Homo sapiens: one gene and its partners. The protein of the gene in region 4 interacts with the protein of the main gene of each other region in a pairwise test. Each region holds a gene or a part of one and is shown on either strand. Other genes may lie near its edges. The genes, in order: SMPD2, FA2H, RUSF1 and SLC10A1.

Evidence for each region.
Region 1: the proteins of SLC10A1 (region 4) and SMPD2 interact in binary tests that used the Homo sapiens proteins (3 or more experiments, as listed by UniProt).
Region 2: the proteins of SLC10A1 (region 4) and FA2H interact in binary tests that used the Homo sapiens proteins (3 or more experiments, as listed by UniProt).
Region 3: the proteins of SLC10A1 (region 4) and RUSF1 interact in binary tests that used the Homo sapiens proteins (3 or more experiments, as listed by UniProt).

The regions. Positions count from the first base shown.
Region 1 is NC_000006.12:109,435,786-109,443,967, forward strand, and holds SMPD2 (sphingomyelin phosphodiesterase 2), read left to right. Parts: upstream 1-4,938; 5' UTR 4,939-5,336; coding exon 5,337-5,386; intron 5,387-5,571; coding exon 5,572-5,668; intron 5,669-5,766; coding exon 5,767-5,843; intron 5,844-6,174; exon of another isoform or gene 6,175-6,188; coding exon 6,189-6,282; intron 6,283-6,424; coding exon 6,425-6,514; intron 6,515-6,757; coding exon 6,758-6,840; intron 6,841-6,966; coding exon 6,967-7,099; intron 7,100-7,191; coding exon 7,192-7,296; intron 7,297-7,481; coding exon 7,482-7,635; intron 7,636-7,731; coding exon 7,732-8,120; 3' UTR 8,121-8,134; downstream 8,135-8,182. Other genes in the region: PPIL6 (probable inactive peptidyl-prolyl cis-trans isomerase-like 6), read right to left, coding at 319-414, 4,671-4,805. UniProt on the Homo sapiens protein: Catalyzes, at least in vitro, the hydrolysis of sphingomyelin to form ceramide and phosphocholine. Also hydrolyzes 1-O-alkyl-2-lyso-sn-glycero-3-phosphocholine (lyso-platelet-activating factor) in vivo.
Region 2 is NC_000016.10:74,771,755-74,779,516, forward strand, and holds the start of FA2H (fatty acid 2-hydroxylase), read right to left. Parts: upstream 3,067-7,762; 5' UTR 3,002-3,066; coding exon 2,732-3,001; intron 1-2,731. UniProt on the Homo sapiens protein: Catalyzes the hydroxylation of free fatty acids at the C-2 position to produce 2-hydroxy fatty acids, which are building blocks of sphingolipids and glycosphingolipids common in neural tissue and epidermis.
Region 3 is NC_000016.10:31,491,306-31,498,591, forward strand, and holds part of RUSF1 (RUS family member 1), read right to left. Parts: intron 5,646-7,286; coding exon 5,544-5,645; intron 2,632-5,543; coding exon 2,561-2,631; intron 2,483-2,560; coding exon 2,298-2,482; intron 2,220-2,297; coding exon 2,162-2,219; intron 1,744-2,161; coding exon 1,673-1,743; intron 1,036-1,672; coding exon 892-1,035; intron 782-891; coding exon 704-781; intron 1-703.
Region 4 is NC_000014.9:69,794,108-69,802,150, forward strand, and holds the start of SLC10A1 (hepatic sodium/bile acid cotransporter), read right to left. Parts: upstream 3,135-8,043; 5' UTR 3,049-3,134; coding exon 2,693-3,048; intron 1-2,692. UniProt on the Homo sapiens protein: As a major transporter of conjugated bile salts from plasma into the hepatocyte, it plays a key role in the enterohepatic circulation of bile salts necessary for the solubilization and absorption of dietary fat and fat-soluble vitamins.

The DNA of each region.
Region 1 (8,182 bases), on a different chromosome or scaffold from region 4:
GTGGTGGCGTGTGCCTGTAATCCCAGCTACTTGCGGGGCTGAGGTAGGAGGACTGCTTGAATCCAGGAGGTTGAAGCTGCAGTGAGCCAAGATCGCCCCACTGCACTCCAGCCTGGGTAACAGAGTGAGACCCTGTCTCAAAAACAAAACACCTAGCTTGGTAAATGATTAATACAATTTAGGAAAAGTACGTAATGTAGAGAAATAAAATCTAGTTACACTAAAATTACTCTTTCAGTTTTTCCAAAACAATGCATAAATAATTCAGGCAAAACTTGGCTTGTTGTCTATATCCCCCACACCCCAAATATCCTTTACCCTTTTTTTCTCCTGTAGATATTGATGCCATGCAAATTCTTGAAGAGGAACTAATATAGGATCTTCAAATTTGGATGGATGATTATTCTTCAGATTCTGGATTTCGAAATAGAATAATTATTTTAGAGTTAGTTCTCTTTTAAAGTCAAAATCATGTTCCCCAATTTTTACGGGGTTTCCAGAAGTTTTATACAACACAAGCCCAGGCCATGCAGTCCGACTGAGATATTCCTTGCTCGCTGTCAGAGGCCCTTGTGTTCACCTCCAAGTTGCTCCCCAGTCCAGGGAGCTTATTTGTATAAGTGCCTCGAAGCCAAGAACTATGTCTTAGAGGCTGGGCGCAGTGGCTCACACCTGTAATCTCAGCACTTTGGGAGGCTGAGGTGGGCAGATCACCTGAGGTCAGGAGATTGAGACCAGCCTGGCCAACATGGCAAAAACGTGTCTCTACTAAAAATACAAAAAAATTAGCCAGGCATGGTGGGTGTGTGCCTGTAATCCCAGCTACTTGGGAGGCTGAGGCAAGAGAATCACTTGAACCTGGGAGGCAGAGGTTGCAGTGAGCAGAGATCACGCCACTGCACTCCAGCCTGGGTGACAGAGTGGGACTCTATTTCAAAAAACAAAAAACAAAAAAACAAAACAAAACAAAAAAAACTCTGTCTTAGTATTCCTATATTCCCACCTGCCACAATCTCTGGCACACAGCAGCTGAATAAAGAGAGGAATACATAAATGGGTTAACGCCAATAGCTTTGTGATATGCTATGTTCTTTAAGACTAGTTTTTCCCTAAGTACAACTCTTGCTAAACCTCGGTGGATCTACAGATACTTTACTTATAACTAAAATAAATAAATAAATGTTCTTGCTTTAATTCACTGATGAATGGGGGATGACCAAAAAGATAATAACGTTGTGGTTATACCCCTTAGGAAAAAGAGAAGTACGAAATCAGTTTAGGTTTAGATACGGAATATGTTCTAGTTTGACATAGATTGTCTGCAGGAATCAGAGAAAATTCTTATTGGTTAGCAATCCAGGCTTGGTTCTTGATATTCGTTATACTTTGTCTCCCTCTAAAGCAAGAGAACACAGGTGAAGCAGTAACAGGCCTCTTTTCTGAGTGGGTTTGGGAAGTAGATGGACCAAAGGGAAAAGTGACAGCTGCTGCAGGTGGCACTTCCCTGCTAGGGACAGTGCTTGGAGGTCCTGTCATGGTCCAAAAGAGGGTGCTGGCCTAGCACAGGTCATCAGGGGTGAGTATTCCAAGGGGAGAAAACCAGGATGTGAGTGTGGCCTACTTTGGGAATACTCATGAAGAGGGCAACAATAATTAGGCCATTTCCTTCTGTCCCCAAGCAATAGCTGACGCATCTTGTTTCTCAGTTCCAGTGTCTGTGCTCAGTTTGAGGCAATACTGCAGGTTGACTACTATTTCTTTTCTTTTTTTTTTTTTTTTTTTTTTTTGAGACGGAGTCTCGCTCTGTTGCCCAGGATGGAGTGCAGCGGTGTGACCTCAGCTCACTGCAACCTCCGTCTCCTGGGTTCAAGCAATTCTCCTACCTCAGCCTCCCAAGTAGCTGGGATTACAGGCACCCGCCACCACGCCCAGCTAATTTTTGCATTTTTAGCAGAGACGAGGTTTCACCATGTTGGCCAGGCTGGTCTTGGCCAGGCTGGTCTTGAACTCCTGACCTTAGGCGATCTGCCTGCCTCAGCCTCCCGAAGTGCTGGGATTACAGGCGTGAGCCACCGCACCTGGCCCGGTTGACTGCTATTTCTAACCATCTGGAATAAACTATAAATCCAGCAGTTTTCAAATGAAACACATGTCTTTTTAGTAATTTAGTATTTGTTGTAGAACGGACTATATCCAAATGAAAATGTATGCAATATTTGTTCCTATTCTCTACAAATTTCAATCTTTTGTGTGTTTGGTTTTTACATTTTGTTTTTTATTTTTCAATTGACATATAATAATTGCACATATTTATGGGGTAGTGATGTCTCAATACATATAATGTATACTTATCATTAGCATATCCATCATCTCAAACATTTATTATTTCTTTGTGTTGGGAACATTCAACACAAATCTAAATCTTTGTCAGTTAATCAGGCATCTGGGATCGCTCACAAATTATCATGTTAGGAATACATTCAGATATCCTTTATTAAGACAGAACTAGAGGCTGGGCATCACCGTGGCCCATGCCTATAATCCCAGCACTTCGGGAGGTCGAGGAGGATTGCTTGAGCCCAGGAGTTCAAGACCAGCCTAGGCAACACAGTGAGACCCCCATCTCTTCCAAAAAAAGAAAAAAAAAACTAGCTGAATTTTCATATTTGAATATAACTACAGTAGGTAAAAGTTTAAGAAAGGGAAAATTGACATTATTAATACAATAAAGATATTGTTTTCTCGACCTACTGTCTTCTACATCAGGGGTTGGAGAGGAATAATTTTTAGATTTGTAAACAGTTTTTTGTTTTTTTTTTTAAGACAGAGTCTCACTCTTGTTGCCCAGGCTGGAGCACAGTGGCACGATCTCAGCTCACCGAAACCTCCACCTCCCGGGTTCAAGCGATTCTCCAGCCTCAGCTTCCCGAGTAGCTGGGATTACAGGCGCCCGCCACCATGCCTGGATAATTTTTGTATTTTTAGTAGAGATGGGGTTTCACCATGTTGGCCAGGCTGGTCTTGAACTCCCGATTTCGTGATCTGCCCGCCTCAGCCTCCCAAAGTGCTGGGATTATAGGCAAGAGCCACCGCGCTCGGCCTGTAAACAATTCTAAAAAATCAAAAGAATTGTATTTCACGTTATGTGAAAATTATACGCAAGTCAAATTTCGTGTCCATAATATGGTTTTACTGGAATACTGTCATTCATTTCCATCTCTGTGTCTGCTTTTGCAACACAGGAAAAAGCTAAACAGGTGTGACTGAGACCCTATTGCCAAGAAGGCCTAACATATTTACTATCTGGACTTTACAGAAAAAAACTTGTCAACACTTTCTTTACAATGTGGAGTCGGCACAGAAAATATGTGCCTTCAGAAAAAGAGCGAAAAAAAAGAGAAAAAAAATCTCTGAAACTCATTAATACATTAACTTTGTAATTAACTTCATGGCCATTAACTTTGGTAATAAAAGGTTGCTGATCCCGTCTGCCCAAGCAACACAGACCACAATTTCTACTTTTGATGATTCATGTATTATTTTCACAGACTTCTGATCACTTGTTTTCTTTTTATTATTTATTTATTTTGAGACGGGGTCTGGCTCTGTCGCCCAGGCTGGAGGGCAATGGCGCGATCTCAGCTCTCTGCAAACTCCGCCTCCCGGGTTCAAGCGATTCTTGTGCCTCAGCCTCCTGAGTAGCTGGGATTACAGAGACCGCCACCACGCCCGGCTAATTTTTTGTATTTTTAGTAGAAACGGGGTTTCACCATGTTGGCCAGGCTGGTCTAGAACTCCGCCTCTGCCTCCCAAAGTGCTGAGATTATAGGCGTGAGTCACCGCGCCAAGATATCTTCTATTTGGGAACATTTTGTTGTCAAGTATCCAGCTGGGTACTTCGGGAGTTAAAAACATTAATTAAGGCATGGTCCTGGAGTCAAGTGAGCTTCGGCGAGAAGTTTGCCATGGACAGCATTTCTGGAGCAAACCCTGTAAGAAGGGCTGAATTCTACATGCCGACATTTCATACATTTCTCCTGCATTTCAGGTTGTAAGTGTGCTGCAGCATGACTGATCTGGCCAAATTCTTCCAGTTTCCTCAAGTGCTTTTCCTTTAGTATCGTTCTGAGTGTTTACAAAGAAATGATTTTCCAAAGCACTTGTGAAGCATCTAGTTCGATTGGAACGCAGTGACGGCTCTATAAAATTCAAAGAAAAGAATCTCCCCGCATGAATAGTTAACAAAAATCGCTTGGGCCGAGGTGGCGGGGTTGTAAAAATTAGCTAGTTATATAGTAATCATTTTTCCATAAATTTAAATATCTCTAATTAAAGAAAAAATTGACGTAGAACAAAATCTGCGGGTGTGTGTGTGTGTGTCTCGGAGGGGATTACCTTATCTCCCAGCGCGGTTCTGAACCCTTCCTTCGCTCAGTTCTCCCTTTAAAAGTCGCCAAGTGGAACGCCCGCCCCCGGACCCGCACTTGCCCCCCTATACTCTCCTCCCGGTCCTCCAGACGGAGCCCGCCCGGCCAGGACACGCCAGCCCCTTCCTCGGCCGGTGGGGCCTCGACCCCCGCCGCCTCGAGGAGGCGCGGCGCCTGCAGTCCACGCGGCCGAGAGCGGGTAGCGGGGAGGGCCGCCCACGACGGAGGTTTCTCTGTGGTTACCTCAGCGGCGCTCTTCGCAATCTGAAAGTTGGGGCAGCTGAAGAGCCCCACCACCTTCACCTGCAGCGGCCGCTCCGGCAGCGACGGCGAGCCGCACCTAGCGTGCGGGGGCCCGCACGGCTGCGGCCTTGCCATGGCCGCGCCCGGGGACGCCCGGTGACCCCAAACACTGCGCGTCGCTCCGGCAACCGCGCGGCCCCGCCTCCGCCGCTCGCAGGAGGCGGGGCCCAGGGGCGGGTCGAGGGCGGCCCGTGGCGGCTGGGCCTTTCCTCAACTTTGCGCCTGTTGCTGGGCCGCCGGCGCGCGGGCGGCCGCGACCGCCGGGGACGAGCTTGGAGGAAAAGGAACCGGGAGCCGCCCACCCGGGGGCGCTCTCCGGACCCCCAGGGTCCTAGCGCGCGGCCCTTACCGAGCCTGGGCGCCCGGATTTCGGCAGCGGATCGCCTTTCCGGGTTGGCGGCCCGCCTGATTGGGAACAGCCGGCCGGTTGCCGGGGGAACGCGGGAGTCGGGCCCGACCTGAGCCACGCGGGCTTGGTGCCCACCTGTGCGCGCCGCCTGCGAAGAAGGAACGGTCTGGGGAGAAGGCGCCGCCGGCCGCCCCCGTCCCCACCGCGGCCGTCGCTGGAGAGTTCGAGCCGCCTAGCGCCCCTGGAGCTCCCCAACCATGAAGCCCAACTTCTCCCTGCGACTGCGGATCTTCAACCTCAACTGCTGGTGAGTGCGTCTGCGGAGTGCGGTCTGGGGGCCACCTTCCGTTCGCACCCATGCAGCCTTCCTCCCCCTATCCCGCCCCACGATCTCAGGGTGTAGGGAAAACCCGAACCTCCAAAGTCCACATCTGGCCCCAGCGCCGGTGGTCCCAGCAGTCGCCTCCCCTGCCCCGCTCTTCCCTTCCTTAGGGGCATTCCGTACTTGAGCAAGCACCGGGCCGACCGCATGAGGCGCCTGGGAGACTTTCTGAACCAGGAGAGCTTCGACCTGGCTTTGCTGGAGGAGGTGAGATTGTGCAGCACGGTGCGGAACCCAGGCTGGGAGGAGGGACAGACCGTCCCACTGGGGAAAGACCAAGCAGGCATCCTCACCGCTTCCCTCAGGTGTGGAGTGAGCAGGACTTCCAGTACCTGAGACAGAAGCTGTCACCTACCTACCCAGCTGCACACCACTTCCGGAGGTGAGAAGCCCACTGGCCTGAAGCCTGTTGTCATCCCAGGAGGCTCTTGGCCCTGCCAGCCCTTCCCTATCCTGCCTGCACTCTCCAGTCTCCTCCAGCCTCCTCTCCCTCTGGATGTGAGAGAAGGAGAAGGGTGAACCAAGAAGGTCCTATGACTTCAGCCCATTTCAGCTTTGTTTTCTGGCTGCCCTATACTCCTCCAAAGGCTGTCGCCTTGGTTCTAGGGCTAGTCCCAGCAGTAGAAAAAGAAAAAAATAGCTGATCAGAGCTGGAAGACAAGGGAGGGGAAGAAGGCTGGGTGTCTCTCCCTGTTTTTCTGGTTATTAAGCAGGGCTTGGCTTTCAGCGGAATCATTGGCAGTGGCCTCTGTGTCTTCTCCAAACATCCAATCCAGGAGCTTACCCAGCACATCTACACTCTCAATGGCTACCCCTACATGGTAAGGCAGACCTTTGACCTCTTCCACCTCCCTTCCCCACCTCCAGTAATACAAGGTAGAGGAGGCAGCCCTCTGAGAGCTGCAGGGGATGGGCAGAAAGATGGTGGCGGTGCCCTGAGTTTCTATCTCCTCCTGCCTGCAGATCCATCATGGTGACTGGTTCAGTGGGAAGGCTGTGGGGCTGCTGGTGCTCCATCTAAGTGGCATGGTGCTCAACGCCTATGTGACCCATGTGAGTGAAGCTGGCAGTGCCTAGGGCTGGGACATGCAGCCCAGTCCTGGGACAGAGAGATGGTACTTCTCTAGCTCTCATACCTGGGGATGAGGTGTGGGGGCAAGATCTTATAAGGAAGCAATGGGCAAGGCTTATCCATTGTATACCAAACACCATGCCAAGTGACAGACACAGGCTTGATTCAGACATACCCCTGGGACCCTCAGTCTTATCTGCTGTGATCTCATCTATCTTGCTCAGCTCCATGCCGAATACAATCGACAGAAGGACATCTACCTAGCACATCGTGTGGCCCAAGCTTGGGAATTGGCCCAGTTCATCCAGTGTGTGAGCCTGGGCTTGAAATGGGAAGTGGGATGGGACCCAGGGGCTGAGGGTGAACAAGGCCCCAGTCATGGGGAAGAGCTGGTGATGGAAGAACTCCCGCCTCACCAACCTGGTTCCCCCAGCCACACATCCAAGAAGGCAGACGTGGTTCTGTTGTGTGGAGACCTCAACATGCACCCAGAAGACCTGGGCTGCTGCCTGCTGAAGGAGTGGACAGGGCTTCATGATGCCTATCTTGAAACTCGGGACTTCAAGGTGAGGACTTGCCTGTTACTTCCCCACCTATATCCCCAGCTTCTCTCCCTCCTTCTCCCCCACATCCTAGCATGAGCCAATGATTCCCTTAGGGCTCTGAGGAAGGCAACACAATGGTACCCAAGAACTGCTACGTCAGCCAGCAGGAGCTGAAGCCATTTCCCTTTGGTGTCCGCATTGACTACGTGCTTTACAAGGTCAGGCTCCTCCCTTCAACATGCTTTCATATGCTGTGTCTCTTTGTCTACTAACCTGTGTAGATCCTTTGCTCAGCTAGTCTAGTCTTGGACCACTGATGGGTGGAAAGTGGGGTAGCCGGGAGCTGGTTCTCTGGGAAGAGGCCCTCATATATAAGCTTCTCTCTGGCCCTTACTTTTCCTAGGCAGTTTCTGGGTTTTACATCTCCTGTAAGAGTTTTGAAACCACTACAGGCTTTGACCCTCACAGGGGCACCCCCCTCTCTGATCATGAAGCCCTGATGGCTACTCTGTTTGTGAGGCACAGCCCCCCACAGCAGAACCCCAGCTCTACCCACGGTGAGTCACCCCCACCCTTTCCTTGGCCCTTGCCCCGCTTGAAGCAGCCCTTCCACTCTTGACTCTCTCCTGCCCCACTGCCCTGCTCTGTTGTAGGACCAGCAGAGAGGTCGCCGTTGATGTGTGTGCTAAAGGAGGCCTGGACGGAGCTGGGTCTGGGCATGGCTCAGGCTCGCTGGTGGGCCACCTTCGCTAGCTATGTGATTGGCCTGGGGCTGCTTCTCCTGGCACTGCTGTGTGTCCTGGCGGCTGGAGGAGGGGCCGGGGAAGCTGCCATACTGCTCTGGACCCCCAGTGTAGGGCTGGTGCTGTGGGCAGGTGCATTCTACCTCTTCCACGTACAGGAGGTCAATGGCTTATATAGGGCCCAGGCTGAGCTCCAGCATGTGCTAGGAAGGGCAAGGGAGGCCCAGGATCTGGGCCCAGAGCCTCAGCCAGCCCTACTCCTGGGGCAGCAGGAGGGGGACAGAACTAAAGAACAATAAAGCTTGGCCCTTTAGTGGCTCTGCCTTTTTCCTTGTAGAGGCGATGGGAGCCAGGGGTCAGT
Region 2 (7,762 bases), on a different chromosome or scaffold from region 4:
TCTAGAGACTCTCCCGAATTCATCCCCCTTCCCCCCATGGTCACAGCCACTGCAGTGGCAGCCATGCAGCAGCATCCTGCCTGATCTCCTCACACCCACTTAGGCTGTCTCTGTTCCTCCTTGAAACTGCAGCCAGCGTCCTCTTCTAAAGATGCAAATCTGACCATGAACCCTGCCTGAACCTCTTCCCTGGCTTCCTTTTTTTTTTTTTTTTAAGATGGAGTCTTGCTCTATTGCCCAGGCTGAAGTGCAGTGGCGTGATCTTGGCTCACTGCAACCTCCACCTCCCGGGCTCACCTGGCTTCCCATTTTTGTTAGAGTCAAGTCCCAAATCCTGACCACAGCCTACGAAGCCCCGTGTGATGTGGCCCCGGCCGACTTTTGGCCTCCCCCCACATCCCTGTCTTTGCCCATCAGCCTCTGGCCACGTTGGTTTTATTTGCAGTCTTTTACTATGTCAAGCTCTTCCTGCCAGAGCCTTCACACGTGCTGTTCCCTTTGCCCAAAATATTCTTCCTGCTACATGCCACCTGGCTAAGCCCAGCCTATCAATCAGCTCTCAGTGTCAATGTCGCTTTCTCAAGAAGGCTCTCTATGCTCCTCCCCTCTAGATCCGTACTCTGATACACCATTAATTAAGCAACTATCATGTGATCTGTGTGTTCCCTCTCCTTCCCCATTATCCCATTAGCTCCATGAAGACAGGAACCGAATTCGTTTTGTTCATTGATATCTCCCCACACCCAGCACAGTGCTGTCAACCCATTAAGGAACCAGTTCCATGACTGAATAAATGATGGAGAAATTAGGCAGGATGACCCAATGAAAAGCCACCTGAAACAGTGGGTGCTAAGTCCTTTCAACCAAAGATCTAAGAGTAGTTGCTGGGCTCATCTTGAAAGCAAGAGTTAGAAGCAGGGGACAATTGTTGGTTTTCAGGAGTCCCCCTTATCCACGGTTTCACTTTCCATGGTTTCAGTAACCCACGGTCAACCTGGGTCCAAAAACATAATTAAATGGAAAATTCCAGAAATAATTTATAAGTTTTAAATTACTTTTCAATAGTAGCCAATGCCACATCACCACACCTGTCATTCACCTCACTCCAACCCATCATGTAGGCATCTTATTATCTTTTTTTTTTTGAGGTGAGCTCTCACTCTGTTGCTCAGGCTGGAGTGCAGTGGCATGATCATGGCTCACTGCAGCCTCCACCTCTCAGGTGATCCTCCCACCTTAGCCTCCCAAGTAGCTAGAATTATAGCCACATGCCACCACACCCGGCTAATTTTGGTATTTTTTGTAGACACAAGGTCTCCCTATGTTGCCCAGGCTGGTCTTGAACTCCTGGGCTCGAGCGATCCTCTTACCTCGGCCTCCCAAAGTGCTAGGATTACAGATGTCAGCCACTTTGCCTGGCCTCATGTTATCATCTTACATTATCACAAGAAGAGTGAGTACAGTACTATAAGATGTTTTGAGAGAAAGGGACCACATACAAATAGCTCTTATTACAGTATATTGTTGTAACTATTCTATTATTGTTGTTGTTAATCTCTTCCTATTGTTCTTAATTTATAAATTTAACTTTATCATAGATATGCATATATGGGAAAAAACATAGCATATATAGGATTCGGTACTATCTGTGGTTTTAAGGATCCACTGAGGGTCTTGAAATGTATCCCCTTGGACAAGGGGGAACTACTGTATATCTAAGCATGATGGCCCCATACCAGTCCCAGAGCCAGGCCTGGGGAACATCAAGAGAGTCGCTTTGCCTCTGGCCTGAGCCTACCTGGAATCCTGTGGACTAGGTCTGTCTCCTCCACCCGAAGACTTTTGGGATGGAGCCAGCATTGATTTTGGAGTCAGATACATGTGGCTTTCCCACTATTTAGCTATTTGACCTTAGGCGCATTAATCAGAGCCTCCCTGAGCCTCAGATTCCATATCCTGAAATGGGAATAACAAAACCTGCCCCAGGTTGAGTTAAGGACTTAAATACCATCGGGAGCTGGTACTGCACAGAAGCGTGCAGCTCAGCACACAGTCTGGTCCAAAGTGCTGGTCCCTTTTCCTTGGCAAAACTGGCTCATGCCTTTCATTTCACTCTTTTGGAGTCCCAAGCCAGCGTGTAGGACAAGAATATAAGGGAAGGTCTGAGAGGTTGGAGGACACAGTCCACCCCAGACATGGCCCAGGCAAGGCCAGGGCGGCACCAGGAAACCCAAGCTAGTGAGAAGAGTTACTGATCTGTGCCTCTTTGAAGCAGAAGTGAGGTGGGATGGGGAGGTGGGAACAGGTTGAGCCCATTATCCAAACAGAAACGGAGAGTGGTTGCAAAGAGGGAGAGGCCGATAAGTGAAGAGGAAGGAAAGCCGAGGCGTATGGGGGGCTGGGGACAGAAACGGGAATCCAGGTTGTCGGAGGGCAGGGGCTGCAGAAGGAACACGCTGGAAGGAGGGGTGCTGGGGAAATGGGAGAGCTGGCACGGAGGCGGGCCAGGCGGTAAGGGTGGAAAGGAAGAGCAAGTTCCTGGAGAGAGGAAGGAGGGGTTGGAGGGGACGACAGTGACCTGTTGCCTGGAGAGAAGAGAGGGAAAGCGAGGGAAGGGAGGGCAGAAGCTGTCACCTTGGGTCCTGCTAGAGGGCAAGTGAACGGGGCTCGCCCGGGAGTGGAAGGCTGACGGAGGCCTGGGTTGGGGTGGGGGGCCCCGGCCCGGCTGTACCTGCTGCTCCCCGCGGAGCTCTCCCACGTAGTACTGCTCCAGCCAGCGGCGCGCGTTGGCCGAGTGCCTGTGCGGCGGCCCGTCCAGGTCGGCGCTGATGTCCTGGCCCGCCCTGGCCCGCAGCAGCTGCTCGCCCCCCGGGTGGTGCCGCACGAAGCTGGAGAGGTCGTAGAGGCGGGCCCCGCGGCGGACCCAGCACGCGCCGGCCGCCAGGCGCCGCTGGACCTCGGAGGGCGAGAAGGAGGCGGCGGGGGGCGGAGCGGGGGCCATGGCCGGAGACCGCAGCTCCCAGCGCGCAGCCCGGCGTCTGCTCTGCTGCCACCCTGAGCGCCTCTAACATCCCGGGAGCCCCGCGGCCGTTCCGGGCGGGCCGCCACCGCACCTGCTCATTTGCATACCGCGCTCCCATTGGCCGGCCGGGAGCCCCGGCAGAGCCGCGAGGGGCGGGCCCGGCGCCGGGAGCTGCGCGCCAGGTGGCCGCGGACAGGGAGTGCCGCGCCCGCCAGGTGTGTCCCGCGCGGGAGGAGGGTGGGCGGACACAGGCGGAGCGAGTCTCCCCGTCGCGGGTGGTTGTCTGGGCGGACATCCTCGGTGGCCTGATCGCTGCTGGAATAACTTCAACTGCTTCCACGGAGGAGCTGGCCGCATGGGACCCTCTGGCTCCAGGAGGTGCCCGAGAGAGCGAGAGGCGAATGAGGTGCTCGCCTCGGGTGCAAATATTTGTTTGTTTTTAAAATTTCAGTAGCTTTTGGGGTACCAGTGGTTTTTGGTTACATGGAGGAATTGTATAGTGGTAAGTCCTGAGATTTTAGTCCACCTGTCCCCCGAGTAGTGTACATTATACCCAATGTGTAGGGTTTTGTGTGTGTGTGTGTGTTACACCCCCTCCCATTCTCCCTATTGTCCATTATATCACTCTGTATGCCTTTGCGTCCTCATAGCTTAGTTCCTACTTATGAGTGAGAACATACAGTGTTTGGTTTTCCATTCCTGAATCACTTTCACTTAGAATAATGGCCTCCAGCTCCATGCAAGTTGCTGCAAAAGACTTCATTTCGTTCCTTTTTATGGCTGAGTAGTATTCTATCGTGTATATCAACTACATTTTCTTTATCCACTCATTGGTTGATGGTTATTTAAGTTGGTTCCATATCTTTTCGATTGTGAATTGGGCTGCAAAAAACAAACATTCGTGTGCAAGTGTCTTTTTCATATAATGACTCTTTTCCTTTGGGTAGATACCCAGTGGTGGGATTGCTGGACCGAATGGTGAATCTACTTTTTCTCTCCTCCCCTCCCCTCCCCTCCCCTTCCCTTCCTTTCCCTTCCCTTCCCGTGACAAGGTCTCACTCTGTCACCCAGGCTGGAGAGTAGTGGTGCGATCTTGGTTCACTGCAGCCTCGACCTCCCGGGCTCAAGCAATCCTCTTACCTCAGCCTCCCAAGTAGCTGGCACTACAGGCATGCACCACTACGCCTGGCTAATTTTTGTATTTTTTGTAGAGACGAGGTTTCACCATGCTGCCCAGGATGGTCTCAAACTCCTGGGCTCAAGCGATTTGCCTGCCATGGCCTCCCATAGTGCACTTTTTTTTTTTTTTTTTGAGACAGAGTCTCACTCTGTTGCCCAGGCTGAAGTGCAGTGGCACAATCTCAGCTCACTGCTACCTCCGCCTCCCGGGTTCAAGCGATTCTCCTGCCTCAGCCTCCAGAGTAGCTATGACTATAGGCGCGTGCCACCACGCCCGGCTAATTTTTTTGTATTTTTAGTAGAGACGGGGTTTCACCATGTTGGCCAGGTTGGTCTCGAACTCCTGGCCTCTAGTGATCCTCCCGCCGCAGCCTCCCAAAATGCTGGGATTACAGGCGTGAGCCACCGCGCCCAGCCCCAAAGTGTACTTTTAGTTTGTTAAAGAATCTCTGTACTGTTTTCCAAACAAGTTGTACTAATTTACATTCCCACCAGCAGTGCATAGCATAAGCATCCCCCTTTCACTACATACACGCAGACATCTACTGTTTCTTGACTTTTTAATAATGTTCGAGGGCAAAATTTAATGGGGCACCCCAAAACTCAGTCATCACTATATCTAATACCTGAACGTAATATTTAAAAAATTATATTGTTGGCTGGGTGCGGTAACTCACACCTGTAATCCCAGCACTTTGGGAGGCCGAGGTGGGCGAATCACGAGGTCAAGAGATCGAGACCATCTTGGCCAACATAGTGAAACCCCATCTCTACTAAAAATACAAAAATTAGCTGGCTGTGGAGGCACGCATCTGTAGTCCTAGCTACTTGGGAGGCTGAGGCAGGGGAATCGCTTGAATCTGGGAGTTGGAGGTTGCAGTGAGCCGAGAACGCCCCACCACACTCCAGCCTGGCGAGAAAGAGAGACTCTGTCTCAAAAAAAAAATTATTTTGTTGCACAATGTGAATGTTCTTAATGCCACTGAACTGTACACTGAAAATGGTTGGAATGGTAAATTTATATTATGTATATTTTACCGCAATACAAAATATTTAAGAATGTTTTAAAAAATCACATTGTCAAAAGACAGGGGTGAGGGGTGGGGTTGGGGGCGTGGCATTGGCCACCTGTTTTTGTAAATAAAGTTTTATTGGAACCAGGGCCAGGGATTCCTGAGACAGGGATGTGAAAGTGCAGGGTTAGCTCCTGTTTTTATTTAAAATTTTGATATTTTGTCCATCATGGATTTTTTTGCATTAATCTTGAAGTTTTACAATACTGCATTAAAATATTATTTATCTTGGTTACTTTTTTTTGTTTGTTTTTTGGCATGCCTGTAGATTTTGCTCTCAGGGTTAGTGCCTCACTCCCTCACTCTAATCCTGGGCCCTGGGGAAGGACCTGAGGGGAGAACAGAGAACACTGTCTCCATTACAGAAGGGGAAGTAGGGGCCTACAGGAGTAAAGGCTGGGGGTGATGCTGTGTGGAAAGGAGGACTGAATTTGTTCATCACAGTTTTGTTTAGAACAGGAAAAACTTGGTTGGACATGGTGGCTCATGCCTGTAATCCCAACCCTTTGGGAGGCCAAGGCAGGAGGATCGCTTGAGCCCAGGAGTTCAAGACCAGCCTGGGCAACAAAGCAATACCTCGTCTCTACAAAAAAATTTTTTTTTTAAATTGAGGCCAGGCCGGGCGCGGTGGCTCATGCCTGTAGTCCCAGCACTTTGGGAGGCCGAGGTGGGCGGATCACCTGAGGTCGGGAGTTTGAGACCAGCCTGACCAACATGGAGAAACTCTATCTCTACTAAAAATAAAAAATTAGCCAGGCATGGTGGTGCCTGCCTGTAATCTCAGCTACTCAGGAAGGCTGAGGCAGGAGAATCATTTGAACCCGGGAGGCAGAGGTTGCAGTGAGATTGTGCCATTGCACTCCAGCCTGGGCAACAAGAGCGAAACTCTGTCTCAAAAAAAAAAAAAAAAAAAATTGAGGCCAGGTGCGGTGGCTCACACCTGTAATCCTAGCACTTTGGGAGGCCAAGGCAGGCAGATCCCCTGAGGTCAGGAGTTTGAGACCAGCCTGGCGAACATGGTGAAACCCTGTCTCTACTAAAAATACAAGAAAATTAGTCGGGCGCAGTGGCATGCCCCTGTAGTCCCAGCTACTTAGAAGACTGAGGCTGGAGAATCGCTTGAACCCAGGCGTCAGATGTTGCAGTGAGTGGAGATTGCACCACTGCACTCCAGCCTGTGTGACAGAGCGAGGCTCCATCTCAAAAATAATTGGATAAATAAATAATTTAAAAAATTAGCCAGTTGTAGTGATGCAGGCTTATCGTCCCAGCTACTGGGGAGGCTGAGGCCAAAGGATCTCTTGAGTCCAGGAGTTTGAGGCTGCAGTATCCTATGACTGCACCACTGCACTCCAGCCTGGGCAACAGAGTGAGCTCCATCTCTTAAACAGAAAACAAAAAGCAGAAAAGCCACACCCAGCTTTACTTGCTCAGCCACAGGGGATCCCACTTGAACTCATGATTTGTAATCAAATGCTCCTGGTACAGAGGCTAACCCATCCAGCTGGCTTTGTCTCTTTCAGGAAAGATATTTTAAGGATCATCTCCATTTGTGCCCTTCTGGGGCCAGGCATCTGTGCTGGGCCAGTTCAAGTATGGGAAGCCTGGCCCAGATGCCTCAGGGGTCCCCAGGTCAGAAGAGCCGCCCCTCTTCCCTCTCCCTTCTCTTCGGACTGACCCTCAGGGAGTAGGCGAGAGTTTTGCTGTCTGTGGGTCTATGGAGCACCTGTCCGTCAGGCCTAGAGGCCTCACATCAACAGAGTTGTTGCTTTTCTCAAGCGGTGAATGCATAAGTAGTCACCTTTACCCAACTTCCACACCTACTCTGCTGCAAATCCCGTTCATGTGCCAAAGCAGCCAAGCGCACAGTCGCAGGTGTACTCAGGCACTTCTTGCTGACAGTATCTGTGGGCACTCCCATTTGGATTTCTCACCATGGCTGTGAACTCCCAGTGTTTACAGTTGAACAAATGATTTGGCCATCTGTTCAGAATTGTAACACTCACAGTTCTTGCCCTAGTTATTTCCACTTCTAGAAATTTAATCTTACAGATATACTATATCAAGATGCATGAACAATAACATTAATTGCAACCTCATTTATAGACTAGAAATGATCAAATGTTCATCATGAGGGAGGACTGATTAAATAAACTATGGTATATTCAGACAGTGAAATACTATGTAGCCATTAGAAAAAATGAGGTAGATCTATGTGTACTAATTTAGAATAATCTCCAGAGTATTGTAGGGGAAAACAACAGGAATGGTGTGTATGGCATGCTAAAAACTAGTTTGCTATTTTTAATTATTTAATCTTTAAGATATTTTTATGAAAACAAAAACATATATGTAATTTTTAAAGCAAAAAGTTTCCTTAACTCCTTGAATCTTCCTCCTAACTCAAGAGCTAGGACATTACCAAAAACTTGCACCTACTACTGTACCCCAAACCTTTCACCTCTCTGCCTATTGGTTACAAAGACAT
Region 3 (7,286 bases), on a different chromosome or scaffold from region 4:
AGGATTGCAGAGAGAATCCATCTTTTTTTTTTTTTTGAGATGGGGTCTCTGTCACCCAGGCTGGGGTACAGTGACACAATCTGGACTCACTGCAACCTCTGCCTCCTAGGCTCAAGTGATCCTCCCATCTCAGCCTCCTGACAGTCCCACAGGCGTGCATCACCATGCACAGCTAATTTTTTTATATTTTTGGTAGAGACAGGGTTTCACCATGTTGCCCAGGCTGGCCTTGAACTCCTGAGCTCAAGTATCTGCCCGCCTTGGCCTCCCAAAGTGCTGGGATTACAGGTGTGAGCCACTGTGCCCGACAGTCTTTTTTTTTTTTTTTTTTTTGAGAGAGGGTCTTGCTCTGTCACCCAGGCTGGTACAATCATGGCTCACTGTAGCCTCGACCTCCCCCAGTTCAGGTGATCCTCCCACCTCAGCCTCCTGAGTAGCTGCAACCACAAGAGCAGAACCACACCTGGCTAATTTTTGTGTTTTTTTTGTACAGACAAGGATTTGCCATGTTGCCCAGGCAGGGTCTCAAGCAATCTGCCCACTTAGGCCTCCCAAGGCACTAGAATCATAGGTGTGAGCCTCTGCACCAGGCCCAAGAACCCAAGTCTTTTACCTTTCAGGTGAAAGGGTGGGAGTGGGGGAAGGCGGGGCCCCCAGGGACAAGGCTTCAGGGGCCAAGCAGCCATGGGCTGAGGGATGTTACCTTTCAAGAACTTTGGGAACAGCATGTCCAACACTTCGTGTGTCTCCTTGACGACGACCCAGCTCTCTTTCTTAGGACCTGGGTACGGGGGTGCAGAACCAGAAGCTCTGTGTCCTCCAGCAGGACAGAGTTTGTCCTCTCTCCTCCCCACCCTGAGGCATCAGCAGTCTAAATCTTGAGGCACTTACCTGCCCGCACCCGGTTCCTCAGCTCCTCCAGCTCTGCTGGAAGGGGTCCATCTCCCTGCAGGGCCCCAAGCATCAGCCCATGTGTGGCGGCCCTTAGGATGGTCTTGGGGCCTGCCTTCTGGTTCAGAACTACCTGTACCTGGTCTGGAGGGACCCAGAGACAGACTGGTATCAGGGAAGGGCCACCTCCCAAACCCCTTCTATCCCATCACCCTGCTTCCCCTGTCTGCCCCAAGACCTTGGCCTGGCACGGAAGGCTAGCACCTCACCCTTTCCTTTCCAATTCATCTCCTGTTGCTCCCCAATGTTCGGGCCAAACTGACCAATTTCCAAATACAATTTCCCAGCCGCTCACTGGGCTGGGTCTATTTTGCATTTCTTTAATGGCTAGTGAGAATAAGCACCTTTTCACACTCAACCAGCGGACCAGCACACTCAAGGACTTGTTTACCCAAGAGGCAACCCAGGATGGAGAGAAGGGTGGTTTCCCACGGACAGCAAAGGTCATAGCCTTCCTAAGAGTGCTGCAATGTAGCTTTGCAGTCACATTATTTGATCCTCATAAAAACACCGCAAGGAATAAGGCAGGTACTGTTAGCTCTGTTTTACAAAGCGGTGACATGAATTTCACTGGGGCATTGCAGCTGTAATTTGAACGGTCTAGAGCAACCCCCAGAACAGGCAGCCTCCAAACTGCCCAGAGCTCGGGGCCCTAGGTTGGAGGAATGAGAGGCTGACCTGGGAGGGTGCGTCTTAGGCTGGGAGAATGAGGCACACTCACTTTGTGACTGGTCCCAGCAGAGGAGGTAGGATTCTTGGTGCCCCTCAACCAGCTGCTGCAGCTCAAAGACACTGTGGGGGAGAGGACAGTGCAGTGGGGGTGGAGGACAGCAAAGGCAGGCATGCCCAACCAGCCACTGAACAGCCACCCAGTGAACTGAAATGATCCAGGCTTCACTCAGGTCCCCTCGCTTCCTCTCTCCCTCAGCCATTACCCATACACACCAAATCCATCCTTTCTTCCTGTATCCAGTCATCCAACTTCCCCATCTACCCATCCTTCCTTCACCCATCAAGCACATCTCTTACATCTGCTTCATGTTATACACCCTTTCCTTCCTCACACACCCACACCAACCCCATGTCTGTTCAGCAGCAATGAAGAACCCAGGACAGAGAGGTGGGGCCTTGCCAGGGAGGCCAGTGTGTAATCGGAGTGAGGGGAGTGTGGGTGGCGGTGGTGACGAGCGGGAGACGCTAGGCCACTCACCTGGAGACCAAGCGGTGTAAGGGGACCCCCAGGGATAGAGACGGAGCTGGCCAGAAACCTGTGGGAAGCTGGGGTCAGGATGCCTAGGCAGTGGGAGAGGTTGAGACACAGGACCCGAGACCAGGGGCAGGGTCACCTGTCCACAGCGGCTCCATGCGATTGGCTGCAGTTGGGTCGAGTACCTCTCCCCTCTGAAGGTAGTGCTTCAGGACCAGCCGGAGCCGGCCTTCGTTCAAGGTCTCCATGACCAGGGCTCGGACCGCGCGGTAGTTGGCGTAGATGTGGAGGGCAGTGAGGAAGAAGAAACATCCAAGGCTGAAGCTGGGGTGAGAGAGTGAGGTAGCTGAAGTGGGCAGAGGCCCAGCTGGGGTTCTCCTGCCCACCCTGCTTCCGGCTTACCCAGGGCAACCTGACACCAGAGGGAGCATCAGGAGGCTGACCAAGAGCCCCGCCAGGTTCACCAGCGTCTCCTGGAAAATGGCAGAGGGAGAAGGAGTTGGAAGGTGCCCCTCCAGGCCAGACTGAGTGCCCGAGTGCCTTTCACCTCATCCTCCCTGCTCCACAACCTCCCAGGGCTCCTTACTGCAATGTGGGTAAATTTTTAGTTTTTGGTGGGTGAAATGTCATTTAAAAGATGCCAGCTCGAGGTGGCTCACACCTGTAGTACCAGCACTTTGGGAGGCTGAGGTGGGCAGATCACTTGAGTCCAGGAGCTTGAGACCAGCTTGGGCAACATAGTGGGACCCTATTTCTACAAAAAAATTAAAAATTTGGTGGGGCATAGTGGCTCGCGCCTGTAATCCTAGCAATCTGGGAGGCCGAGGTGGGCAGATTCCCTGAGCTCAGGAGTTCAAGACCAGCTTCGGCAACACGGTGAGACCCATTGCATTTTTGTAAAAATACAAAAAACTAGCCAGGTATGGTGGCGCGTGCCTCTACTCCCAGCTACTCAGGAGGCTGAACTGCTTGAGCCTGGGAGGTGGAGGTTGCAGTGAGCTGAGATCACGCCACTTCACTCCAGCCTGGGCAACAGAGCAAGACTGTCTCCAAAAAAGAAAAAAAAAAAAATTAAGCCATGATTGCACCACTGTACTCCAGCCTGGGAGACACAGTGATACCCTGTCTAAATACATATGTGTATCAGTTGCTTTTTTGCCCAGGTAGGTGCCCTCGGAATACCCTTGAACACATCTTGTCTTGCAAGTCACCAGAACAGACCCACACTCAGGCACTCACTAATGTGTACTTTTTTTTTTTTTTAAAGAGCGAGGGTCTCGCTCTGTCACCCAGGCTGGAGTGCAGTGGTGCAATCATAACTCACAGCCACCTCAAACTCCTGAGCTCAAGTGATCCTACCACCACGCCTCTGCTAATTATTACTGCATTTTTTGGTAAAGATGGGTCTTGCTATATTGCCCAGGCTGATCTTGAACTCCTGGGCTCAAGCAATCCCCACCTCAGCTTCCCAAAGTGCTGGGATAACAGGCATGAGCTGGAATAACTTTTATTTACTGATTTTAAAAAGTTGACTGCTCCCCTCCCACCAAGCTCCTTTGGTATGCAGTAACTGGCAGATAGATTTGCAAAGGGGTCAAGGAACCACCCGGGAAGAAAAGGAACAAGACCCACACCTCTTCCCTTGTGTATCAATGTTAGGAGAACACTCTGATGGCTGGATTGAGATCACTCTAGGGGAAGGGACCCCAGGCTACCTGCCCCCAACTCATCATGAGGGAGGAGTCTGGATTGGTGCCCCTGACTACTGGGCTCCCAGGGAGAGCTGGTCCTGGCATAGAGAGGACCCGAGACTGGAGAGCTCTTCTCAACCAGCCCTCCTGGGAAGGGCATATGCTGTGGGAATAAACGCTGTGGGTGTGGCAGGAAACTGGGGATCAGGGACCTGGGGAGTTCAGGAGCTCCTCTCTCCCAGGTGGGAAGAGTCATTTCCAGTGGCCACATCCAGTGACAGCAAAGCTGCACTGGCAGAAAGCTGGAGTCTGCTGCGGGACTGACACATTCCCAGGTTAGTCCCGGATATGTCCCTGGCTCTGTGGACCGAGGAAGCCCTGGGGTCTTGGGAAAAATGGCTTGGGGTTAGGGGGAGGTCTGGGGACCAGCGAGAGAACAGGAGAGGGACACCAGGCATGGAGCTGGGAGTCCTGCGGTGAGGGACCTGTGCTGTGCTTCCTGCTTGCTCCTTAACAGCCTGTGGACTTAGGTTCAGAAGAGACAATGGGTGGAATAAGCCCGAGCATCCTGAGAGAAGGGACTTCCCCAGGGGCCCCCAGGGAGATGGGACCTCTCCATGCTTTATTTCTTCATCTGTACTAAGGCAACCATGAGCATTTACTGCACATGCCCACTGTGAGAATTTAAAGAGTTCCCAGAACCAAAATACTTGGCACATGGTTAGTGCTTAATAAATATTAGCTTGGGTTAAGATTATTGAGCCAAACAATGGAAGAGAAGGCCAGAAAGTAGGAATGCACAGAACAGCAGTTTCTAAATTGCTTCAGTGTCAAAGAAAACCATCTCACACTTCTGGGACTTCCCTGGGCCTTAATTTCCTCATCTGTAAACTAGGGATAAAGTAGTACCTACCTCAAAGGGTTGGTGTGAGAGTTTGTTTGTTTTTGAGACAGGGTCTTGCTCTGTCACCTGGGCTGGAGTGCAGTGGGGTGATCTTAGCTCACCACAGCCTCCACCTCCTGAGCTCGAGGCTGGGACTACAGGTGTGCACCACCACACCTAGCTGAAGTTTCTTTTATATATTATGTAGAGATGGGGTCTCGCCGGGTTGCCCAGGCTGGTTTCAAACTCCTGGCCTCAAGTGATCCTCCCACCTCAGCCTCCCAAAGTGCTAGGATGACAGGCGTGAGAGTTAAGTGATGCAGTACACGTAAGCACTCAGCACGGGGTTTGTAGAGGTCTAATCCATGCGGAGTTCAGCCTTAGGGGTGTCCCTACCCCAACTCCAGGCTCCCTAGGGTGGGCAAGGGGGCTGGGCCAGCAGGCCTGCTAAACTGCTGAGTGGAGGCCCCAGCCAGTGACCCAGCAACCCCACATGCTGGGTAACTCTGACTTGCCAATTGCCTTGACATGTGGGGCCTCATGTGATCAGAACATCCAGCTTGCACGGTGGGGTCTGAAGAGGGCAAGGCTGAGGGCTTGCTCTCAGCCACACAGGTGGCGGGCAGGGCCTGAGATCAGCTCGGACTTGCCGCCACCAGAGCCCAAACCCCTACTCCTGCCTGGGTGTCTTGAGTCAGCAGGGAGCACCCATACTTCTTCCTGTGTGTTCCTGGGCCCTCCAGGGCACTCAAGTGGCTTCTCTCCCCTTCCCCTCCCCACTCCACGCCCTCCCTCCAGCTCTGGCACTCACCTGGCTGCTGTCCTTGGCTGACACGTCAGCCATGTTGTTCCTCCGAGCCTGGTGCACGGTCAGGGCAGCCCGAGTGGCCCCACCAGCAACACTCACGATGCACTGGGTGGGAGGGGAAGAGAGAAGGTTGGCAGAGACACGTGTCCTGGTAACACAGGCACTCAGACCAGCTGGAGAAAACCTGGCCCCGGCCAAACTCTGAATGCTGTCCTTGGCATCTAGTTCTCACCTTGATGCCCCCTAGGCTCAACTTCCCTGTCCTGTTCTAGGAAACTGGAGTCCCACCTGCCACTATCACCTTGGGGACTGGCCTCACAGAAGCTCAATTTCATTCCCCAAGGTGGAGGCCCAAAGATCATTCTCAGCCCAGAACTCCCAGCCCTCCAGCTCCTGCTTGGGCTATACCCTCCCCATTACTGGCGGGAGGCTCAGGCTGGTTTCCAGCTTCATGCTTACATCTGCCTCCTGTAATTCCTCTACTCTCCTCCTGCCCCAGTTAAAGCTGTCGAAACCTACACTGATGGCCCTGACCTCCCAGGGTACCCAGATCTCTCCCTCTGAGATCGCAGGATAAAGCTAATCAAGGAGGGTCACTGGTCACTCACAATCATCCCGAGTTCATCAAAGCTCTTTTACTTATTACTATTTTTATTTATCCTTAGTTTTTGAATACAGACAGAGTCTCCCTGTGTTGCCCAGGCGGGCCTGGAACTCCTGGGCTCAAGAGATCTTCCCACGCCAACCTCCCAAAGTGCTGGGATTACAGGCGTGAGCCACCGCCCCTGGCTGAGGGCTCTTTTAGATGCCAGACATAGACTTAGGTGCTGTGATACAAGTCAGACCCAGGCCCTGCCCTCATGGAGCATACAGATCAACAGATAATAAACAAATAAACAAGTTAATACGCAGGCAGAGGAAACAGTCTGTTCAAAGGCCAGAGGAACGAGGGACAAAGTGAGGGCGAAGTGGCTGGCAGGGACCTGACCACACGGAGCCTGGCAAGCCTGGTGAAGGTCTTTCCCTAAGAGCAATGGAGCAGCAGAGTGACCTGATTGCTTTCCTCTTTGAAAGGATCACTGGGCTGCTCTGAGAGAGGAGCGGCACGGAGGCTACCTGGGAAGCAACGGTGCTCTCTCAGCAGTGAGAGGTGGTGACAGGAAGATGGAGGAGAGAATGGACTGGAGATTTTGAGGAGGGAAAAATAACAGAACTGAAGGTTCAGCCGAAGGTGACAGATAAGGGGAAGGGGGAAGAGGAGGAGGTGGTGGCAGTGGTGGTGGCGGCAGCATAGATGACAGCCAGGCTGGCTTCTCTTGGTGCAGCTGGAGATGGAGGTTGTGGAGAGGGGAACTCTAGAGAGGGGTCTTAAGAGGGAAGCTCATGGCCCTGTTCCATTCCCTTGTTGGACAGATGAAGAGACTGAAGTCTCAAAGGCAGAGTTTGAAGCAAAAGCCAGATGGCACAACCCTCGGTCCATAGCTACAGCCATGCTTTTCTCTGGGGTTTCCTACCCTGTTTAGGGGTGCTCGTAGCATTTAGGCTTGCAACCAAGGAAGCTAAATGTCCTCTACCACAAGGAACCGTTGCACCCCAAATGCTAGTACTTATGGAGAAACACGGCCCTAACGTGATTTTAAGTTGACACATGGGCCTTGGAATGGGTTTTCCATTTTCTTGAGTTTCTCCTCTGGGCCAGGGACTTAACTCTGACAGGATATGCTCTTTACTGAACCATGCCAGGCC
Region 4 (8,043 bases):
GTCTTACAATTCCTTCCAGTTCTAAATGGGATGTAGAGTATTGTGCTTATCTCAAACTGGGGCCTTTGGGCTACAGCTGGCCCTTTGACATGTATTGTTTGGTTTGCACATTTAAAAAAATGGAATGAGTTGCTGATTTCACATAAAATGGATATTTTACCTTCTTTTGAAAAGTGGGAAGCTCTGGCTCCCACACAATACTTGCTGCTGAGACACGGGTGTCTGCCCATGCCTTTGAGGCTGTCTGGCCATTTTGTTTGTGGAAATGCTGACCTGGAAGATATTTCAGTAAAAGCACAGGTTCCGGAGCCACCCAGACCTGGAGCCAATGTATTGACCTCTCTAAGATTCAGTTTCCTTACCTCTAAATGCTACTTGTTACATGCTGTCCCCCAGGGTGCTGTAGGAGGATCACATATACTTATCCAGGTAAGGTGTTTAGCACTGTGCCTGGCTGTTTCTTATAATCGTTGTCATTATTATAATGCATGTAACAAGTTGTCCCAAATTGGAATGGGATTTGAAGTCTGGCAGCACATGAAGGTAGATGACCAGATTCCCATTCCGACAGTGGGATCTGAGACATGGTTTAATGTGCATGGGAGGGTTGTTTGTTGGGAAGGAGTTTTATGGCAGAAGGTGGCTGTCCCAGCAGAGCTTATCTCTTGTGGGGGTCTAGGTAAAAATGACAGTCATCAGGGGTCTGGACAAGGAGGTTGAGCAGGAGAGCATGAGGGGTCATGTTCTTGAGTCACCAGAGGCTCTGCCTGGGTGGGGCCTAGAGCCACAGCAATGTAGGCATTGTGGCAGAGGCCTCAATAGTGGCCACTGGCGATGGGGCTGGGACATCTGGCCACTCACACTTAAAAGCACAGTTGCCTTCCACGTCCCCTGCTCTGCTTCTTCCACAGAAACACAAAGCCCTCAGAGTACCCCTTCGCAGGCCCCTGACTTCTGCATCCCTCATACACCAAAATTCAGATATACTCTAGGATTCTTGGGACACACAGGCTGCCATGAGCCTTGTCCAGAAGCCAGATCCAAGACCAAGGGCTTGCTTTGTAGCAGAGAGGATGTGGATTAGACAGAGGAAAGCATTTTCTCACAGTGAGGTAGTTGAACATTGAAATACCTTTCCGTGGGTGATGGCACAAGCCAAATGCCCTCTTTGTGCCTCTCTTCCCATTGACTACTAAAGTGAGGGCTGAATCATATGGAAAAAGAGCCCAGAGCTTCTCAGATGGCAGATCCTGTTAAACCCCAACTCTCATTCACTCTCACTTTTTTATTTCCTTTTTTTTTTTTTTTTTGAGAGAGAGACAGGGTCTCACTCTGTTGCCCAGGCTGGAGTGCAGTGGTGTGATCATGACTCACTGTAGCCTTGAACTCGTAGGCTCAAAGATCCTCTCATCTCAGCCTCCCAAGTAGCTGGGACTACAGGCATGTGCCACTATGCCTGGCTAATTAAATATATATGTATATATTTGTAGACACAGGGTTTTGCTATGTTGCCCAGGTTGGTCTTAAACTCCTGGTCTCAAGTGATCTTCCTGCCTTGGCCTCCCAAAGTGCTGGGATTATAGGTGTGAGCCACCGTGCCCAGCCATTCTCACTTTTTTCATTTAAAAAATCTGTCCCAGTGTCATTTTGCATCACTAGGAGGGGCTTCTTGACTGGGTTAGTTTTCCTAGGAAAGTTTGGCTAGGAGTAGGGTGCTGACAGACACAAGCAGATGGACTTTCTGGGTTCTGCTGCTATACCTGGCATTGAATAGCGTCTCCACGGAGGACTAAACCAGGGGGGACTGGCTTGAGACTGAGGTTTCACTGAAAGCAAGAGCTTCTGCTAGTGAGTTTTCTTTAGCTTCAGCACAGGCTGCTGGAGCTGGAGCAGGTCTGAAGTAGCTCCTCTGGCAGATGTTCAAGACTAGAGTCTCCCCAGTTTGGAAGGATGAGCATCAACCAGCCCCTGTGTGCTGCGTCTCCAGGAGCGAGCCCTTGCTGATTTCTGCTTATAATGCTTTGGGCAGGGGGTTAGGGGGTGCTGCTGTCTTCCCCTTATCAGGGTGGCTGAGATGGGGCTGGCCTATCTGGAGTGGGTGCTGGGAAACTCTAGGATCTCCCTGGTTGTGCCTTTGCATGGAAATGTCATTGCATCTGATGGGGAATGAGGGACTTTAAAGAGAAAACATCTTAGATGACCAGGTAATTGGGAGGACCTTTTGGAAATTCTTGCCCGCTTTGCAGGAATTTGAGGTGCTCATTTGGTTCCAAGTCACCTTGATCTCCCTGATGATGTTTGGAACGAATCACACTACCTTTTAAATCTCTGGGCTCAAAGCAGGCAACTTGTCCACTGTTGTAGGTGGATGCAGTTCTCCAGAGGTTCCTTTGGCTTTAATCAGTGCTCCTTTAAGACAATCCTTGAGACACCTCTGGAAGCAAGGAGATCACCACGAGCTTCCTGGACCAGTATGGTCCCTTTGGCTTGGTGCCTAAACCAGACGTACCCCAACTCCTGCCCCCATCCCAGCATAAGCTCTTGGCAATAAATGCCAGACTTCCCCTGCCCTAGCCTCCACCCAGCCTGCATTCACTCCTTTTCCTGGCTTTAGCCCAGCTCTTCCCCTCAATTGTGACATATCTAATGTAGCTCCTGTCCCAGGCTGTTCCCTCCTCACCCCCAGGCCTACCTGAGGTTCATGTCCCCCTTCATGGCCAGACTGAAGACATTGGACAGGTTCCCTCCAGGTGAGCAGCCACAGACCAAGATGGCCAGTGCCTCAATGTTCTTCAGCCGGAAGACCTTGCCCAGCACAAAGGCCGTGAGGGGCATGATGCCATACTGTGCCACCAGGGCGATGGCCAGCCCTTTAGGCTTCCATAAGTGAGCCTTGATCTTGCTGAACTCCATGGTGCAGCCCAGCGAGAGCATGATGAAGAACAACATGAACACCAGGATGACGCTCAGTGCCAGGTCTGTGGGGCGCTTGCCAAAGTTGGGTGGCAGGGTGAAGTTGAATGGGGCAGACGCGTTGTGGGCCTCCATCCTCCTGTGAGGCAGTGGAAGACCACTCCTTGTTCTCCGGCTGACTCCGTTTCTTGTGCAGTTCTTGCTGGATGCCTTCTTTAATCACCTCTCAGGACAGAGAGTTTCTGGACAAAAGCTCTGGGCAAATAGAAGGGTTATGCAACTATCTGAGCTATTTCTCTGGCTGTCGCCCCAAAGAGGAACAGCCCAGAACCTTATCTGCCTGCCCTAGCTCTCCCAAGCTCCCTGACCTCTGCTGGATTCCTGGGTGCTACTTGTACTCCTCCCTTGTCACTTTGCTGCTTCTGGGCTTATTTCTCCCCTTTGCCCTCCACTGAGTGTGCCTCATGGGCATTCATTCAGTTACTGGGGACCTGCCCAGGGCCCACCTGAATCTAGGTCCAGCCCATCTCCTTCCCTGCAGCTCCTTTTCCCAGCTCCGCTCTTGATTCCTTAGTTTCTTGGTTGGGGGAAGGTGCCCTCCCCATGTCCAGTGGGTTATCATTTGTCCCCAGAACCCATGAGAGTGAAAGGAGCTGGGTGTTGCCTTTGGTTCCTAGATACAGGTAGCATAGTCCAAGGGGGTGTGGGACAGGCAATGTCACTGGCCTCCAGGAGGGGATGTGTCCATGACCCTTTTCCTGGGAGCTGAGAGGATGCCAGTATCCTCCCTGCCTGTTCTGGGGAAATGTTTGTTTTATCCCCAAACTGGGACTGTATGAGTCCCAGGGAGGAATACTGGTGGTGGCTGCTCCACACTACCTGGAATGCTTACCATCAGAGGGAATAACCAGCTGGGATGGTGGGTGGGCTCTCAGGAAGCTTGGAGGCTCTTTCCCCGAAAAGCAACCTGAGAGAACCCTGGCTGTGGAGATTGCTTTGTGCCCGAGGAGGCCCATTGCTTGCAAAACTTGCTGAGAAGGAAGCAGGAATGCAGTCTTTTCTTCCTGACTTCCTGATTGCTTTACTTTTGCACTGGGCCTGTGTGTTTCAGGCTGGGAGCCAGGCTTGGGGCGTGGAGCAGAAGCAGAGAGAGGTGGGCATGCCAGGGGCGGGGCCACCTAGTGTGTGAGGTTATCCTAGGCCTTGCTCTTTCCATCTATCCCCACTGCAGAGGTGGGACAAGGGAGGAGGGGTCTCCTTCAGAAACACAATTGCTTCTTGGCTTGGTTGGAACCTAGGAGGCCTGGGTGGGGTCTGAAACAGGTGATTAGGCTTTGTATGTAGGACTCCAGAGGGCAGAATAGGGACCAGGGTGTGAACCACTGTTGGGTGGAGGTGGGGACAGATTTTGGCTTGGTGCAAGGAACCACCTGAAAATGAGAGCTCTCCAAGAATGGCCTTGAGGCCTCTGGAATCCTGCTTGGATAAGGGTTGGATGGCAGGATCCATACATATTGCATCATATCCATGAAAAGGCTGCTCCCTGGGCTTGCGCGGTGGGCAGCCTGCGGGGCCGTATACTGTGGCCCTGGGTGACATGAACTTGAAGCCTCTTTTCCTTTGAGAGTCTCTGCTAATGATTTCCTGGTGCTTGAGTTGGGCTGGTATCAAAGGGAGGGCAGGCAGAGGACTGGGCACTGGATGTGATGCCTGGACTGAGCGTTCCCACAGGGTAGGGTTGAGTCTCAGAGGAGGCTGCTTCCTCTCCCTGGGGCTAATCAGAAGGGAACAGAGTTGCTAGGGGAGAATTATTGATCACTAACTGAGTACCAGGCACCATGGGAGGCAAAAAAAATAAAAATAAATAAATAAAAAAAACTATATAATTCATGTTCCTGTTCTCAGGGACCTGATGGTCTGTACAAGACCACAGATGGCCAGATGGTACACAATGCAATATGGAAGCACGTGAGGGTGGAGGCCATGCAGGGCTGCCAGGTACACCTGTTCAGGTTGGGCACTACACAATGCTAGGGACGCCACTCTACAGATGTCTTGTGCAACCGTACATGAGGCCTTGAAGTCAAAGGGAGACGTTAGGTTTTTACACATTTGCCTGATGCCAAAGGGTGAGGAGGAATTGACCAATATCTGTTAAAGATCAGGGTCTGGGCATGTGTCTATTGTGCACATCCAAAGAGAAGAAGAGTTCCTATGAACACATTTGTAACCTGGATTCTAAACCACGTAGTCTCTATCAACTCTTCCTCCTCACCTCTTCTCAGGAACCCAAAATCCTTCCACCTCCTACTGTGAGTTTTTCCCTTTGAGAAAACAGTTTCTTGCCCTGGCTGCCCCTCCTCCCACTCCTTCCCATTCCCTCTGTTCCTAGCAATGTGACTTTGCAGAGAATGGAAAAATCTCTTCCAGGAACCTGACACCCTCCATTCTTTTCCCCATATCCCCTCAGAATCTACTCTAATTTAATACAATTTTGGAAACAGGAAGATCTTTTTGTGTTATGTTAATGATACCTGAGAGTTGTTGAGCACATGCTGTGTGATGGATGCTGTGATTTAAATTACATTTCTTTTTAACTTTTATTTTAGATTTAGGGGTACATGTACAGGTTTGTTGTTACAGACAAACTTGTGTTATGGGGGTTTGGTGCACGGACCACTTTGTCACCCAGGTACTAAACATAGTACCTGATAGTTCTGATAGTTATTTTTCCTGATTCTCTCCCTTCTTCCACCCTCCTCCCTCAAGTAGGCCCCAGTGTCTGTTGTTCCCTTCTTCGTGCCCATTAGTTCTCATTATTTAACTCCCACTTATCAGTGGGAACATGCAGTATTTGGTTTTCTGTTCCTGCATTAGTTTGCTAAGAATATTGGCCTCCAGCTCCATCTGTGTTCCTGCAGAGAACATGATCTCATTCTTTTTTACGGCTGTATAGATTCCATGATGTATATGTACCACATTTTCTTTATCCAGCCTACTGTTGATGGGCATTTAGGTTGATTCTATGTCTTTGCTATTGTGAATAGTGCTGCAATGAACACACGTGTGCATGTGTCTTTATGGTAGAATGACTTATATTCCTTTGGGTATATACCCAGTAATGAGATTGCTGAGTTGAATGGTAGTTCTGTTTTTAGTTCTTTGAAAAATTGCCACACTATTTTCCACAATGGTTTAACTAATTTACCCTCCCACCAGCAGTGTATAAGTGTTCCCTTTACCTTGAATGTAAATGGGCTAAATGCCCCAAATAAAAGGCACAGAGTGGCAAGCTGGATAAAGAAGCAAGGCCGAACAGCATGCTGTCTTCAAGAGACCCATTTAACATGCAATGACACCCATAGGCTTAAAATAAAGGGATGGAGAAAAATCTACCAAGCAAATGGAAATCAGAAAAAAGCAGGGGTTGCAATCCTAATTTTAGACGAAGCAGACTATAAGCCAACAAAGATGAAAAAAGACAAAGAAGGGCATTACATCATGGTGAAGGGTTCAAATCAACAAAAAGGCCTAACTGTCCTAAATATAGATGCACCAACCGCAGGAGTACCCAGATTCATAAAGCAAGTTCTTTTTAAAAAATAAATAATTGAAATTTATTTTTTATAATTCTGGAGGCTGGAAAGTCTAAGATCAAGGTGCTGGCAGATTCAGTATCTGATGAGGGCTGCTCTCTGCAGATAATGCCTTGTTGCTGCATCCTCCAGAGGGGGTGAATGCATAAAGCAAGTTCTGAGAGACCCATGAAGAGACTTAGACTCCCACACAATAACAGAGGGAGACTTCAACACCCCACTGACAGTATTAGACAGATCATCAAGGCAAGACGAATCATCAAAGCAAAGATACTCAGGACCTGAACTCAACACTTGACTGAATGGACCTAGTAGACATCTATAGAACTCTCCACCCCAAAACAACAGAATATACATTCTTCTCATTGCCACATGGCACATTCACTAAAATCAACCAAAGAATTGGACATAAAGCAATTCATAGCCAATGCAAAAAACAAAAATAAAATTATACCAATCACACCCTTGGACAACAAAGCAATAAAAATAGAATTGAGTACAAAGAAAATTGCTCAAAACCATACATTTACATGGAAATTAAACAGCCTCCTCGTGAATGACTTTTGGGCAAATAAATTAAGGGAGAAATCAATAAGTTATTTGAAACTAATGAGAACAAAGATACAGCATACCAGAATCTCTGGGATACAGCTAAGGCAGTGTTAAGAGGGAAATGTATAGCACTAAATGCCCACGTTTTTATTTAGTCTTCACAATAGCCTTATGAGATAAGATGCTATTGCTATCCTTATTTTATAGGTTAGGAAAAGGCTTAGAGTGGTTAAATAATCTGCCCAATTTGCATGGCTAGTGAGTGGTACAATTGGTATTCATGCCCAGCCTGGTTCCGGGCCCCAGCTGCTCTTCTGACCTGCTCCTTCTTTTGCCTCATCCTGTCTCCCGAGTTAGCCTGCTTTTTGAGACCTGAAAGCTTTGACTGGAAAAGATCCTGTGATTGCATATTTTTTCCAAACTGGCCTAGACTTGTTCTTTCACAGGCTGGATGTAGCAAGCAACACAACAAACACAACATCCAAACAATCATGGGGGGGTAGTGGTGGCTGTGTAAATTTTACTTAAGGGACATTTTAATTTCATCTCTGGCAAAAGTCAGCTATTTTCCCAGATTCTGAAGTGGCATAAAAAGCCTTCAGTCAGCCATTGCTCTTGACAGTAGAATTCTACTTGTAGAAAATTATCCTATAGAGATAATTGCTTGAGGATCTACGTAAAGAGATTTTCACTGCAGCATTGCTTTGTAATAGTGAACTATTGGAAATAACCTAAATATCTATTAGTAGGTGATTGGTTATGGCCCATTTAAAAGAATGTAGCCATTAAAAAATATGGTAGTGACTTATGGTATAAATGTGGCTGTAGAGGCTGGACATGGTGGCTCATGCCTGTAATCCCAGCACTTTGGGAGGCTGAGGCAGGAGGATTGCTTGAGTCCAGGAGTTCCAGACCAGCCTGGGCAACATAATAAGACCTAGTCTCTACACAGAATAAAAAATTAGCGAGGTGTGGTGGCAGG